Regions from separate parts of the Homo sapiens genome. Here region 1 is linked to region 2. The links come from fine-mapping of genetic effects on gene expression. Tissue or cell type: cerebellum. Region 2 holds a variant in brackets; the other region holds the start of a gene. All regions are shown on one strand. Distances are from middle to middle.

What was found. PIP is the estimated chance that this variant, and not a neighbour inherited with it, causes the effect.
Region 1: C1orf74 starts here. The variant in region 2 is fine-mapped to the expression of C1orf74 in cerebellum (GTEx, PIP 0.97).

Annotation. Positions count from the first base shown.
Region 1 is chr1:209,780,493-209,788,780 of GRCh38, forward strand. It overlaps C1orf74 (chromosome 1 open reading frame 74), which reads right to left and starts at 4,067. Exons shown (of 2, transcript NM_152485.4): 1 at 3,886-4,067; 2 at 1-3,217. The coding sequence starts at 3,142. The coding sequence ends at 2,333. It overlaps TRAF3IP3 (TRAF3 interacting protein 3), which reads left to right. Exons shown (of 17, transcript NM_025228.4): 15 at 1-114; 16 at 853-966; 17 at 1,564-1,818. The coding sequence ends at 1,656. IRF6 (interferon regulatory factor 6) reads right to left here. Exons shown (of 9, transcript NM_006147.4): 9 at 5,125-8,152. The coding sequence ends at 7,928. RefSeq lists enhancers at 3,772-4,389, 3,946-4,205, 4,390-5,005.
Region 2 is chr1:209,297,957-209,306,244 of GRCh38, forward strand. No RefSeq gene overlaps it. Among named protein-coding and RNA genes, the nearest start is that of LINC01696, 23 kb to the right of the region's middle. The variant G/T (reference allele first, on the strand shown) is at 4,688.

The DNA of each region.
Region 1 (8,288 bases), 480 kb after region 2:
CCAAAGTCCTTCCCTAACGAAGTGGAGCCTGAGGGTACAGGGAAGGAGAAAGACTGGGATCTCAGAGACCAGCTGCAAAAGAAGACTTTGCAGCTCCAGGCCAAGGAAAAGGAGGTGAGAGGGTGACCTGAGATAGTGAGGGCTCATTTGCGAAATAGCAGAGAAACCTGGGAGGCAGTCAAAAAGCAGGGATTTCAAAGTTTAAGTTGTGAGTGGATAACCACAGACATTCATTTGCCTACATAAAGTGTCTGTGCTTTTGGGCTGACTTGTCAATCTTTTCCCTTCCTTATTTATACCAACTCCTATTCAAGGTTTTATTAAATGATTACCTTTTAGAAAGTCGACCAAAACTCAAACACATTTAATAAAAATATTAACTTCTCAATATGTCGTCCCACATTGAGTATCTTAAGTCTTTATATGTCTCTTAAAGAGTAAAACTCTTCCTTTGTACATACTCACAAACATACACATCCCCAGAAGTATTGATATGCAACTAGCTCCTGGGAAAGAAACTTGTACTAAGGTCACTTCTAGGTCGTTTGTTCTATAAGAACTTCATTTTTCGGTGTCTCTCATTTGCAAAGCACTTGCACGTAAAGTCATATAAAAGAACTTAAATGTATAAAATGTAATACTATAATATGCATTACTGTCAATCATTTAAATGAACACATTCCAGACAATGTAAGACAGTCAAAAGACAAACTCAAATCCCTGAGAATGGCTGGGAAGGGAAGATGGTGGTAAAAATTCCAAATGAGTGAAACTTACAAAGGGCAGTCTCCCCTGCCTGGGCTCTGTCCTAGACAGAAGTGACAGTGATGACTTTGGTGATGTTCTCCCCAGTGCAGAGAACTGCATTCAGAATTAGACAACCTCAGTGACGAGTATCTCTCCTGCCTGCGTAAGCTGCAGCACTGTCGAGAAGAGCTGAACCAGAGCCAGCAGCTGCCTCCCAGAGTAAGAGGGTCTCTCCTTCCCATAAAGCCCTGGATGATGGGACGATTCCTTCTTTAACCAAGTTTTGCACATAAAATATATCAGCCCACGCCAACAACTGGCCATCCTGTCCCACTGTGCTTGGTTTATACTATACTGACATTATGGCAACCATTGAAAAAAACACTGGCTCGTCCATCAAAGCCCAACTTTCACAGAACTCTCAATGCCAGAAGGAAAGACTTACTCTTAGCTAAAGTATGAAAGGGTGTTCTTTTAGCCGATGATAAGCATGGTGGCAAGAACAGAAGGACACAAAAGTACTGGGGAATACAAAGAAAGAATATAATTTTGCTGGGTTATTTTCCACCCTTCATTATTCATATCAGTATTTATATATCTGGTCCCTGATGGATACGGCTCCCTGGGCCAGAGAACATTGGTTAAGTGGTTTTATCCCAAGACAGGTGACAAAATGGGAGACAGAGTAAAAAGCTTTTTCTCCACCACCAACCCAGCGTTTTCCACTGGGCTAGAGTAGGAAGAAGAAAGATTTTTGCCTATATCTTTTCCAATCCACTCATGGCCACTTTCTTCTGTCTCCCTGTCCCCCTACAGAGGCAATGTGGGCGATGGCTCCCAGTGCTGATGGTGGTGATTGCTGCAGCACTGGCAGTGTTCCTGGCCAATAAAGACAACCTGATGATCTGAATAATTTGTGACAACTGCCTTGGGTGAAAATCAGAAGCAAGCAACTCAGCGAAAAACTCAGAAGGTTTGGGTACATTACAGCTTGGGTTTTCCAACTGACTTAGGATTTCTGACTTTTTATTAATTTCTTAACCTACTGTAAATAAACTTCACCTGACCAGATTGTTCCTCAGAACTCTCAGTTTATTCCTGAATGGTGTATTACATTAACAAGTATCACATATTTAAGCATACTGGTGGTCTACTCTCCTCAAATTCAGTTGGAGGCATATAAACATGCAGAAAAGCCCCCAGCCCTACTTTCCTAGCATGCAGCACCCACATAGAGCAGGTATATTTACAAGGTTACCATGCAAGAGTGTTTGGCTTGTCTTCCATCACCCTGCTTTTCCTCTATCATCTCCTTCCTTCTATCTTTTATCCAGTGAAAATGAAAACATCTCCACTAAGAGGACTTCCTAGTATAGAAATGGCAAGTATGTACTATCTACCAATTTGCTACTAGCACCACCATTACCTATTTACATGCCCTTTGCATTTGTGGCCAACTGATCTACAGCATTGTGCCTTAGTGTATTCAAGACACTTGGAATTGGCAGTTGAGATGATTATTTGCCATCCCCAACCTAGAGATGATCATTTACTGAGTACCTTCTATATGGGAGGAGAGTTAAAGTCAGAGGGCCACAGCCGGCAGTGTGACTATCTCAGAGGAGATGCTGAGATCAGCAAAGTCATTCTGAGTCCTAAATCGGGTTCTGAGGTCCTTCTCCCAGGTGTTTAGAATGTCCCTCAGGCCTGGGAACAAACTCTCTGGGACACTAAAAGAATAGAGCAGGATTGGGGGTTGACCTAGCAACCATGAGATCCGGGCAGTGAATACTCGTAGTGGAGTCAGAGCTAAGCAGTTGTCATCTCCCTGGTTCAGGTGAAAGGTATAGGGAACAGGATAGCCCAGGAGGATCCCAAATACAGTACACAGATTCCAGTCTGAGGAATGGAGCCTGCTGTAGGAGACTGCTAGAGATAAGTCCCTCTGCAGCCCCTGCAAATGTGTGATGATCTCAGCCACGAGGGCCTTCAAGTCCTGAAGCTGGTCCAGGGAGCAGACAGAAGGGTGACGCTGGCAGCTGGAAACATCCACAAAGGCTATGGTACCAAGCAGCACCTGCTCCAAGTGCTGACATACATGCTCAGGACTGACAATCAGGCTGTTTTCTCCAATCTCAAGGATGTGAAGTCCAAAAGTCAGGAAGCCAAGCCCCTTCAGCTCCTCCAGATAGCTCTGGAGCTCTGATGCCCCTGCACAGTTGCAATCATAGAGCACAGCTGGCTTCAGTCCCCGGGCCACAGCCAGCACCTCTCCAGCTAAGTGAAGGCAGATGGCTTGGGGTGGACTCCGTCTCTTTCCCATGCCAAGGGTCTGCTGAGCAGCTGCCACCAGCAGCTGAGGGCTCGGTGATGACATGAGATCTAGAAGCAACATCAAGAATGGCCTCCTTAGCTAGCCCGAGTTCCCTTCCCTGGGTGGCATCTTTCAGCCAGACACTTGAGGAGGGGCCTAGAAACAAAGCAGGAGCAGGGAATTATTAACAGCCTTCCTGTTAAATCGCGGTATCTTCCAAAGGTTATTCTGTCCCTCCCTGCTTTGAAATGGCGACCCAGCCCAGACAAGATAGTTTCACCGATGCTGCTTGATTTTTCTGGTTGACTTGGTCTCCCTCAATCATAAATTCGTGTGTTTTTCTAGCCTTATAGCTAGATTTATATTCCCTCTGGCTTTTATTCTAAATTTCACCTGTTGCAAATTACGTTCTCTGGTTCAAACCGTAGGGAATTTGGGGCAGAGGCGGAGGCGGGGCAGTGTTTGGCAAAATTCACAGCATTTCGCCCAAAAGCCCTTCTGGGACAGAGCTCCAAGTTCCAAATGTATCCTTTCCACTGACAACTCCCCTACTCTTCCCGCCAGAGAATAGTTATAAGAATAGTAATTTGATTAATATACACCAGAATGTGGACTAACAACCATCTCACCCTGACACATAAAAATGAATGAATGAAATCCACTAGAACTGCAGAAGGGTAGTATTTTAACTTCTGCTGGCCCCGCCTTCCCTTTCTGTCCGACATCAAGGACCCTCGGAAGATGAGATTTCTCCGATCCACACACCCCACACCAGAGCATGTTATAGTGATTTGCTAAATGAGGCATAAGTCTGTCTCACATACGTTCTTTTTCCACGTCCGCTACAGGTTCGGGGGCTCAGAAACTTTTTGCGGCTTCCTGCCTGCTGCCAGAAAGGCAGCTAGTCCCCCACGCCCAGCCGCAAGTAACACTGGAAAACCCGCCTGCGCTGGGAAGACCCTCGCAGCCCGCTCTGCTCCAGTCCCGCAGGCACCTTCTTGCGCATGCGCACCCACTCGAGTGCCGCCCTCTTTCCCCCCATTCCGTGACGTCATCCAGCCGCTCGCGCGCCTCGCGTTAGAATCACTAGCTAGGCAGCCTTACTGCGCGCCGGAAGTTTGGGCCACCGTGCGGCCCGCCCTTTCCGGCCAGACTGAACGCGGCCCCATCTGTCGGCTTAGGAACTGGGAAGGGCGGAAGTAAACGAGAAAAGGCGGAACCTGGTGAAACTGGTTTCCCGCTGCTGCCCTCATTTTGCTTCGCCGAACGTCCTCCCTGTGTTATGACGTCTGGTGTCCCACTTGACTGGGAATCCAGAAACAGGGCACACAGCAGTTAATAAACACCTTTGATTTGTGTCTGTGGAAATACGTTTTGTCCAGACGAAACATACCTCAAGACAACATATTTTGCAGAATAGCCTCACCTGTGGGTGGTGCTGAAACGTTTTAATTTTTTTTAACTTGACTTCCCTAAATCCTACATTTGAGAGGCCTACAACAGCTCTCTAGGGAGGGTGTGAAGGTGTGAGTATTCACTTTGAACAAATATGTGCCAGTCATGCTGCTAGGCCCTGGAGGTACTGCAGTGAGCAAAACAGACAAAACCCCCACTTTCATGGGGCTTAAGTTCATGTCTACTGAATCCAGTTTGCTGATTTCAAATAAGAAATGAGAAGTGATGACACAGAGGCTTTCCAGTCAGGTCATTACAAAGAAAAAGTGTTATTTCACGTAAGAGTTAACACCTTTTTAACTACCAGCGATTTGACCCATGCCACGAAGGGAAAGGATTTCTTGAGAAAACCCCAATATCTAAGGAAATGGCCCCAATTTATTTATACTTGGAGCAGGACAGAGATTAAGGGAACAGTGGACACCTACACTGGAGTTGTCACTCCTGGATCTATCTTGGTGGTGCCTTCAGTCCATGAAAAGTGAATTGTACAGTAAAGATGGGGTCAGCATGGGAGGAGGACCAGCTTATAGGAGTTACCAGCCTAAGGCTGTCTGGTTCTTAGCTCAGAGGGAATCAGAAGCTGAGAGTAGAAAGTAGTCTTCTAATTTTAGAACGTTTTCCTTCCCCGCATTTATTTAATTTTCCCATGGTGGTTAACAGTAAATCCCTAAAAGACTGATTTAGTTCATTCATTTATTCCAGCAACAAATATTTGAGAACACACTGTGTCCCAGACACTGTTCTAAGGACTGGCAGCGAAGTCCAAGACAAACAGTCCCTACCTTCAGCAAGTTTGCAGTCAAGCAGGATGCGGATGCTGAGCATTACAAGGGAAATGATTATTCTGAGAGAGGAAGTATGGGGTGCTATGGGAACATACAACCAGGGACCTAATTTTATGGGAAAGGGACCAGCCCAGATCCAACACTTGCTCTCCCAGTTTACCTCCAGTAGGTTCTTTTTAACTTGAACTAATCTTGTTTGGTGGGGTACACAGTGAGGAAAAAGAAGAGCTAGTGACAAAATCTAACTCCCTTCTCAGTCTTAAGCAAGGTGAAGGCAAGGGAGTAGAAGATATCAAGGGAGTGAGTGGTGGTAGCCACCAAAGGAGATAGCAGACTGAGGCCCTAAAAAAAGAAAGGAAATCTAAATCTATCCAGCAGGACCAGAGAAAGAGTGCTGAGGGTGATTAGATGGAATCCCTGCATGTACTCTCCCGGCATTCTGAAAAGAAGCCAAAACAAGGAAGAAACCGGGGTATCTAGTTAAGACCTCACAAATCACTCATCCATTCCTCTGACATGTTCATAAACTTTTTATAGTGGTTACGAACCAAAAGCTTGGCATTTCTTGGCACTTTTCCAATACCCTTTACCAGCTCACATTATCTGGGCTCCCACCCAGGCTACAGATAGCCTGGCTGTTAGCACTTCACAGAAGGGATATAGACTGGCCCAGATTCAAGAGCTGCCCTTCTAATTTACCTACAGTGGGTTTTTAACTTTGAGTTCCCACGTAGAGATGGGGCAGCCAAATATCAAGCCCAAATCCCTCACTTCACCTACTCAACAAAATGACCCCCAAAATGTAAAGTTTCTGTGCCTTTAATGCTTCCCGGTCCCTAAAAGCCCAACTTTTCCTCGAAGCTGGGCACCTGACCTTTAGCCAGGTTTCTTAATCTTTTCATGCTTTTCATAATAGCAAATTCCACTAGGTCTCTTAGAAACTCTAAAACCAAGGCTTAAGCACTTTAAATAAATAAGTCCTCATGTCACCACTGATTTTGAACTTTTAGTTTTTAAAATAAGGCTAGCTCAACTTTTGAGTCATTTTGAAAAGTTGGAGATGGCCTGGTTTAAAGGTACCAGACTAGACATGGGCTTCCTTACTATGTCCCGACACAGACAGATAGGCATCACTATTCAAGAGGACTGGGGCTTGCAACCACAGATTAGCATCTTATTTGCCATTTAGGTCCCAGATTGCTTGAGCCCAGGAGTTCAAGACCAGCCTGGGCAACATAGCAAGACCTCATCTCTACAAAAATAAAAAAAAAATTAGCCAAGCATCATAGTGCACGACTGTTGTCCCAACTACTCAGGAGGCTGGGGCAGGACGATTGCTTGAGCCCAGGAGCTTAAAGCTGCAGTAAGTGGTGACTTGCCACTGCACTCCAGCCTGGGCAACAAAGCAAGACTCTGTCTCAAAAAAGAAGAGAAAGCTGAAAGGGTTAGAGACTCAGCAGATGTTTCTAGATAAGACCAGTTTGTGACAGATACAGCTGCATTGTTCTATACCACTCTTTACCTTCACTGTTCACACTCAGATACCTCCACTAGTAAGGGAGACAAGCAGGTTCGTGCTAGGTGAGCCTTTCCAGAAGAGTACTGCCCAGCCCTTCTTCATCCCAGCCTTAACACACTCAACAACCCATTTCTTCCAACTGCAAAAAATCTAAATGATACTGTCCCTTTTGTAGTCAGAGAAGTACATCTTAGATCCCCAGCTCAGTCTAGCTCAGAGAAGAAAACAAGAAAAATAGAGCTCTTTCCTCTTAAAGCTAACACCTGAGTCACATACTGTCACCTACCCCCTCTCCCTGCCGCCCCCCCAACACACACACACTGGTATTTGAGTGGTAATAAGGTAAATGCCTGACAACCTATTCTTCCACAGAATCCCTAGGCTTTCTGTGTCAACAGCTTCCCTTTAGAAGCCAAATTTGTGAGCTTTCACTCCACAGGCTGGGTGACTTTCAGACTTTGGCACCCATTTCTATTTAGATATCAAGCATAGTTTCTAAGCAACCAGCCAGCCAGCTCCTCTCCCTCTCACTTCCCCCATCAGGGAGCCAGCTTACTATACTAGCAGAACAGGTCAAACAGAGCTCGATCCTGGACAAATCAGTGCTTGAGGAAACTTTAACAAAACCAAGGAAAAATGTGGTACAAGAACAATGCAGAAGGATTCTGTTCCAGGCAGTTTAGCCTTGTACAAGTAGAAGAAGGTCATTGAGTCCGTTCTAAAGCTGGATGCAATTTCAGGCACTACTCCAATCTCTTCACTTTATAAGCAATAAATCTGAAGCCCAGAGGTTAAAGGACTTGTTCAAGGTCACATTGGAAGCAAAGCTGCAGCTAGAACTTTGGTGTCCAAACTCCCAGGCCAAATCTCCTTCTACTATGCTATATCATACTACCATTAGGAGATTTGAAAAAGAAAAGCAAAGTCTGAAGGGTGATTTTTCCATAAATTAAATCAGCTTTAAATCTAGGCATATTTGGAGAATCACAAACTTCTAACACTGTTAGAGAAAAGAGAGATTTAAAAGCTGGTTAAATCTAAACAATAAAAAAATCCATATGTACAATATTATAAAAAAGAGAAGGAAGAAGATGGCATTCACAATTACTGGGGAGGCAGGGCAGGGGGCAGTTGCATGCTGGGGGTGGGCTGCATGGGCTGCCAGCTCTCCTGGGTTTGAAGGATGCGGTACAGCTGCTTCAGCTGAGCAACGATGTTATCCTTGATGTCTGGGGTTGAGATCTGCAGGCGGACACTGCCACTATCAAAGGATCGTGTGAAATCACCAGAAAACATCTCGTAGATCATCCGAGCCACTACTGGAATGACCTGTTCAGGACACAGAACACAGGTGTATCCTCTGAGGAAAAGGTATTTTTAAATAGCACAATGGACCCAAGATTGAAGGACAGACCAAAGAGGCCCTGAGGAAGACCCCATTCTGATGTCTAAATATAGGATATGC
Region 2 (8,288 bases):
CTTCCAGATTCTAAGGAAACATGTGAACAAACATGTAACTTACCTGTGTTCATTGTTGTTATATTCCCCCAATTACTTTGTCCTTTTGTTCCTTTATGATTGTTTCATGGAGCTTGGGTAACTGGAGAGAGAAATGTGTCATCAACTAACCATATATATTCAGAAGTTCTATGATCAGGCTAAGGGTTTACTTATCTCTCTTGGATACAGGAATATCTGAGAGTACAATGGGGTTACATGAATAAAAATGTCAGCCTAACATTCCCAAACTAATGGACTAGAAGCAAGGCCTAATGGGACTTTAAAAGATATGGTTATGGTTTATACAAACCCTTCCCAGTAGAAGTAGCCTATAATATTCTCACTCTACTTTTTAGTCATGAGAAACATTTCAACCTTACTCAGGGTTGTCTCCCATTGATTTCATATTTGAGGAGTTGCCCAAAAGTTCTCTTCCCTTTGCAGAAAAGCATCCCCATTGCCTATAAAGTCCAAATTCTTCAGCATGGTATCCTAAGCCCTTCCTGATTTTTCTGCCAACAATATTTTAGCCAGTCTCCTGGAACATCCCCCCAGTCATTGACATCACATTTCACTGCTTCTCCCACACCAAACATTATATTATATTTATGCCTGCTCATGCTGTTTCCTCAACCTGAAATATACTCCACTCCCTTATCTTATATAGTCCCACGAATAAGCTCATTGTTATTTCCTCTCTGTAGCCTTCCTTGATCCTTGGTCAAAAGCATTTCTTCTTTCTGATGTATGCCTACAACACCTCTTCGCACTTCTGTTTAGGACGTTATCTTGGCTTGCCTTGTAGTTGACTACTAACATCTGTTTCTCATTCCATTATTTGAAAGCTTCTTGAAGGCAGATAGGAATATAATATGTAAGGTAGGCATTAAATAGATGTTTATTTGTTTAAATAAGTTTCTTAAAGAGATAAACATATTTGTCATGGAAAATGGATTAATTATAAAGTCAAAGTTGGAAAATACAGAGAGTTGATAGTGGAGAAGTTCACTCTACCCAGGAACCAGTGACACCAAATTGTGCAGCAAAATTGTTGGACTTCAATAATCTGACAAATGCCCTCCCTCAGCTTTGTGTGCCTGGTGAGAATTCTCTCCTTTGAAGCATCACTTCTTCTGGTGATAACCCAGAGCAGACATAGCTGTCCCTACCTTACACTCCCAAAACATTTTGAACAAAATTATATTTGATAAACACTCATGCTGTGTTGTAATGCCTTCTTTGCCTCTATCACTGGAATATGAGCTTTATTTTTTTCTAATAGGATTTCATATGCACAGAATTGGATTAATTATAATTTCTGGTTTATCACTAGACTCTGTGTAGTCCCACCTTTCAATGTTTTTGTTGTTAAATAAAGTCTTATGTGGCTAGTAATGTGCTAGGGTCTGGGAATCTGAAGAGAATAAAACACATTCCCTGTCCTCAATGAGTTTAGTTAATGCCTTCTCTTCTTTGTATCTTCAGCCTTTAGCTTAATGCCTGGCACATGGTACATGCCCCCTATAACATATGTTTCCTCTGCCTGATTCTTGAATTTAGAGAGCCCCTGAGTTTAGTTTTTATAATGCTTATCTTCCCTATCAACATACTCCTGAAATTCTCATCTAGCCCTAAAGCTATAAGTACTATCCCAAACACATATTCTCAGTTTCAGTCTACACCATAAACTTAACTTATACATCCAACTTCCTCCGTGAAATCTCCACCAGGATATCTCATAGGCATCTCACACTTAAAGGGTCTAAAACAGAGTTCTTGACCCAGTCCCAGTCTGCCTGCCACCAAACCTGCTTCTCCTCCATGGTCTCCTGTTTTGTAGATTTAGCTCAAGCTAAGTTCCCTGCATTCATCCTTGGCTCTTTTTTTGTCTAACATCCCCACAGTTAATTCATCAGAAATATTGTTGGTTTTACCCCATAAAATATTTGTTTGCTCATTGTTGAGTCTTCCACTAGGGATAAGTTTAGTGAGGCTAGACATTTTGTCCATTTTGTTAATTCAAGTACCCCTAGCACTTAGCATATGGCAGGAACTCAATAAACATTGGTTGAATAAAATTTAAACAAATATTTGTGAAAGAAAGAACAAATAAGTACATGGGATCTCAGACCTGCCCTCTAGATAAATAAATTTAGGGAACAGCAGTTACCATGTTTTTCATTTGGAATGAGCCAACAATCTTGTTTTCGGTTAATACTTTAGAACGCAGAAATCAAACATGGAATACTTCTATAATAAAAAAGAAAAATTGTTTTTAAATTTGTCCATCTCATAAAAAAGTAAGCTATGTCAGAAGCGTTTTGTCCAGAAGATAGAAGATGTCATAAATGGATAAAACTTCTCTGACTAAATATTCTAATCAAATACTGGCTTCTGCTATAAAATAAAATACTACTCATTCCAACAAAACCTGTCTTTATTTTTTTTTTCAGGGAAAGGGAGAAAAGAAAAACACAAAAATTGGAACCCACAGCTATATCTACGTGTCTCCTGTTTCATGCAAGTGGTAAGAAATGAAAGAATATTAAAAGAGAGACTGAGGAGCTAGAAGTAATTATTGAGTGTCTCCAGTAGGATGTGAATCAAAATTTTGCTATGTGTGGTTTGCAAAAAGATTAAATGATAGCATTAAAGCTTGTGTATACCCAACTGCCCCAGATGGAAGACCTACTATAGCTGCTGTAATCTGTCCAGGTTATTTCAACTCTTGATCCAGGGAAGAGTTCCTGATAAATAAAGTTAGTCCCAGAAGCTTATTCAAGATAATGTTTTCATAACCCTACAGTGCTTGTATAAATCCACTGTTCACCCCACTTCACCAAAAAAAAAAAAAAGGTTGCAGCCTCTTTCCAGCACTTGTAATCTTTTGAGAGAAATAGACGAATCATAATTGCACATATAGATAACATTGCCATTTTAAGTCTCTATATGGAATAACATCAGAGACATTTATGGTCTCCCTCAGAGGGATTCAAGAAGCAGGTTTAACAATAAATGTCAGCTCCTGTTACCTAGAGTGCCATACACAGATCACATGGTGAGGAGTAGAAAGGTAACACATTTCTAGAATAAAATGAATTCTGCACACAGATGGAAGGTTCCAAAACCAAGATAAAAATCTAAGAGTTCAACAGGTTTTTTGGGCATTATTTTATACTGTAGTCCTTACCTTTAAATGCAAAATAAATAATTCTATCTGAACTGCTGAAGCCTAGTGGAATATAACCAATTGAATTCTCATTTTCCAGGAGACATAGTCTCTCTGGTGCCTGCGACTATTCGTGTTAGTCCAAGTTCTTTGATAAACAGACACCAAGCTGAGATTAAACATGGTGAAATACTTTTATGGAGAATATACCTGTAAGAGAAAATAAGAAGGGAGCTGGGGAGACGCGAAGAGCCATCAGACTACCATGCAAGTCTGAGACTTCCAAAGAAAAAAGACAGGAAGAAAGATTGGGTAGAATTGTCTTAGATCACCATGAAGACTCAGGACAGTACAGCAGGGCCATAGGGCAATTATCAAGATGAAATCTAAAGAATCCGGTATTTCCTAGAGTTTGGTTTGCCTTAGTATCCCTGCCAACCTCAGTCACTGTCCGGGAGCCACCTCTGGGAGGTGTGACCTTGGCATAAGCACAGTAATGCAGCTCAGAGCCCAGCAGCTGGGACTCTTGGTTAACTATGCCCCCCAGGAGTTAGAGGTTTGCATGGGGCATTCTCACAGCTACTATACTAAGGTGCTGGGATAGCATCAGTGCAAGACAGTAAAGAGAATATTTCCTAAGTATGGAATGAATGTTAATTCCCTCTTTCTGAGCAAGGAATTAAAGCTCCCAAAGAGCTAATTAATGATAGTTCAGAAAAAAAGACTGTCTGCTAACTTCCGGCCCTAAAAGATCTGTGTTTCTCTCCAGTGTTAATTCATCCCAGAGCACTTAACAGAGTTAAGCAGCATGAAACCCTTGAACTCTAAGCACCATCAATGAGCCTTAGAGCTGGATTCTTGAGTAAGTTATCATCAAATTCTCAATTATGACGGCAAATGCATTTCTCAGAGAGTTTTTGGATTAATTTATAAACCTTAAGGCTAAATGGAATGAAATATACCTTATTTCAAAGGCTGGAAGAACTTACGAGGTTCTGGTTGTTTGAATGCCCTACCAATGAGAGATATACACAGGGCTCCCCACGTGCCTTGCTTCCGGAATGGGAAAAGCCACTTGAAGCATGGGAAGAATAATCCGCAAGAATCTAGAAAGGGTTCTTTCAACGTAAAGTTCCCTAGATTAAAGTGGAGGAGAGGCAGGGAAGTTACCTGCATGTTCCATAAACAGTGCTAGTCTGTAAGACCTTTGGCAAGATGGCAAACCAGGGAGCAGAAATCTGCACATGATCATTTTATTCCAAGTAGATGTTTGAAGGGGAGAGAGAGAAAAAGAGACAGAGAGAGAATGTGTGTGTATTTCAGTGGGGCAGAGAGTACTTCTCCTTTTACTTCCTAGGACAAGTTCTAAGAGGAAAAGGATTTGCCAAGGACATCTAGGCCTCTGCCTAGATGACCTCCAGACGCCAGCTTCAGGCTGCAAGGCCAGGGGAGGGCCAGTGAAACTGAGAAATCAAGGGACTTGTTTCTTGAATTCTC[G/T]ATTTCTTGAATGAGGGCCAAGTGCCAGATTTTGTTTTTGTTTCCCTGGACCTTTCTTCACCTGTCTGGGAAGAAAAGTTGGGCACGGAGGAAGAGCCCAAAACAAGGAGAAGACATTGCAGTCTCTCCACCCACGACCAATCCGGGAATGGTATTTCTTTGCTCCTCCTCCTCTAGGGTCTAAATCCCACCCAGAGGTCTGGCTGCCATTTCCTAGATTGGTTCTGCCCAGAGTGCAAAAGGGTTCCAGAAGGCGGGAGCCAAGGGAAAACCTAAAAAAAGTAAACAAAACAGAGAATCTACAGCCACCTCAGATGACAGCAAAGGATAAAAGAAGGCAAAGTGATCCCTGCTCACAGAGGAGAGGAAGGAGGGAGGCAGCAAATATATCACCCGCTATTGCTGAAAGGCTTACAAAAATCCGGTTATATTTTTTAATCATCTTGCATTTTAGATCTTTAAAGTACAAATATGGATTTCAAACATACCAAGGGAACAAATTAACTTAGAAAAATGGTAATGCTTTCCAAGGTTGCACCTGCCATGAAATTGCTCCAAGTTTGCATTTTCCCCAGGTCTCCAGTGTGTCATTAGGCCAGATTGATTGCGCTCCTCCCCCGAACAGCTCCCCCATTACAGGGTTATTGTATGGAAATTAGTGGAAGATTGGGAACATTTTTTTGCAGCTGCAGTGGCTGGAGTCAGTTTTGATTAAGTGATAGAAACCTGGTGCAGACGGGGAGATCTCTTTGCTTTAGCTGCCTCCTTTATTATCACTCAAGTGCAGCTTCTCCCTGTGTGGATCTTTTGCTGCTTTTTAGACAGTGCTGTTTACACTGAGTCATCTTTGTGTTTTTTTAATGTTTCCCAACTCAATTTCCCCATTAGTATTCTAATTTGATGTGAAACTTAAAACCAGTCTATTCATTCCTCATTTTCTATTTCCCTGTCTACACCCCTATCCCCACACCCCTGCTCCATCCCGACTTTTTGGAGATGCAACAATAAAGTGGTGATAGTCCTCATCCTCCATCCTTCTATCCTACTTATCCCCTAAGATAAACTATTGAAGGGGCCTAAACCAGCAATCAGAGCCATGGTGGCCCCAGGGGATTTCAAGGTGCAAATTAAGCCTTGGACTGGCTGCTCCAAGAACTGACAAGTGAGGGCTGACAGTTTTCCTCTCCTCGGGTTCTGTCAGGAGCTTGCAAATGTCCCAGAAAAACTGGGGCTCTGGCAGATTAGGAGTTGATCTGCTTGTCATGCAGGGTCAACATCAGACTACAGCAATTGAGGGCAACAAGACACGATGGAACAGAAAAATAAAGGACAGTTTAGGTGCAAATTGCCTGCAGTAAGTTGGAAGGGGGAGAGCGGCTGGGGGCGGGGGAGCACATAACCTCATATAGGCCTTTCCTATCTATACACTGGAGATCTCTCTTTCTGTGCTCTATTCTTTTCTACATTCATTCAAGCCTTCATTCATTTTCTCTTCCAGTATGTACTGAGTACCTCTCCTAGGTACTGTAATAGATGCTGAAACTGAAGAAAAAAGTGAACGAGAATAGTCTCCCAGTTCCATTGGAGAAGGTAGGCATATTAACAAAAAGTTACAATATAATTTGTACAGCAGGGGCAAGTGTTCTAGCAGAAATTTACTAAAAATTATTTGCAAGAACAGCAGAGGAAACCACAAAATCTGCCTTAATCAGGAAGTGTGCAGAAGGGCAGCTACCAGAGGAGGCTTTTAAGTGAGGTGACATTGGAACTGGTTCTTGGGCATCCCCCTGCCAGAGCATGGTGGAGGAGACAGATTTCAGTGAGAGGGACCAGCAACAAGCTCAGGTAGAAAAGAGAAGAGCACATCCACAGGGAAACGTGTGGTTTCTAGGGGCTGGAGCAGACATTCGGGGCAAAAAGTAATGGGAGATGAGCCTGGAAAAGCATGTTGAAATCAGATGATGAATACAGTAATAGGCATGCTGGGGAACCAAGACTGTATCAATGATAGAAACCAGGAGTCTCTGGAGGTTTTTAAGCAAAGGGTTTTTTTGTTTTGTTTTGTTTTGTTTTAATGCCTTTTTAGAAATTACACACTGAAAACAGTGTGGAGGGTAGCAGATTGATGTGGGGAGACTTCAGAGGATGAGACCACCATTATGGACATTACAATCATCCAGGTGAAAGCCCATGAAGCCTCTAACTCATCCATCTACCCAAACGCCTGTGTTAGGGCTTTTCGCCTGTCAAAAAACGATCCCAATATCCTCTCAGAGCTCATATGCCAAGGACACTTTTTTTAAAGTTAACTTTAAAATATTGCCATCTAGCAGTTTAGTAAGTTCCCTGACACATTGAATAACATCTCCTCTCTCCAGCAAGTGAGGATGGGGTCAATCTAAAATAGATATTTGCCAGTGGTCAAGACTGGATGCCTGGACTTGATTGATGTTTCCAGGACAGCCACTGAGTGGGTTGCACAGCCCACACCATTGACCTCATGAATCTTTTCCTTAATCCAGAGAGAAAATTAGCTCCTGCCTTTGAAGAATGACATCTGCCCCTGAAGCTATATTCCCTCTGCTGAACAAGAGCAGTCCTGATCTTTCTTCCCAAAACTCAGTCTGAGAGGCAGCTCCCTTTGGGGACTGAGATGATACCTGCCATTTCCAAATCTGTCCCGCGTCCCTCCAAGTGCCAATCCACATCTCTCCTCTATCCTCATGTCCTGTCCAAGGCTCCCACCTTTCACATTCTCCATACCTAGGATAAGCTGCTGCTGCTGAGAGCACCTGCTGTTATCAGAGAAAAGCAAGAGGCAATTGTCCATTACTATCTCAAATGCCTCCTGCTTAAATCAGTGTGGGGATTACCGTTGGACAGCTCAAAAATGATATACTGGGAGCCAATTTCTCTTTCCCCCATGGTCAGTCACCTTCCACCTGGCAGAGTAATCCTCAAAGCTCATTTAGGAATCCAGCTCATCTTGGTCCCTTTAATAGCCTTAAAGGGACAAGCTGATTCCCCAGGGTTGGTAATTTACTATCCTGATATCATCCTCTTGGGAGAAAAAGAGGGAGGCTCCAGCTAAAGGCTCCCTCCTCCTGAGATCTTGGGCTACATTCCTGCCTCTCCCCTTTCTTTTTTTCTTTTCATCTACCCCTCCCACAAACAGTGAAGTACAAAGACAGTGAAAAGTCTTGTGAATCTCTAACCAGTAGGCATTGTTGCAAGAGGAAAGTTGTGATTATTTCAGCTCCTAAAGTGCTTGGGGCACTTACACTGTTTTTCGTTGCTCTAAACTGTCTGCCTGCTATTTGGAAAGGGTAGGGTGATGCCAGGTCATGATATTTCACTTGTTGGAGAAGATAGTTCTCATGTAAAAAACACTATAATCACATCAGTTTGATAAAATGCTTCACAATTGAAGACTCCATCCCCATTTCCACTTGGAATATTTAACTTCTACAATATTCCAGTTTAGGAAAAGCATCATGGATTCAGGGTAACCTGATTTTAGGATTTCAAGACAGCAAAAGAGTAATCTCAAATGTGTCTTCAACCCAAGGTGTCATTAACATGGCTCACCTTATTTGGTCAG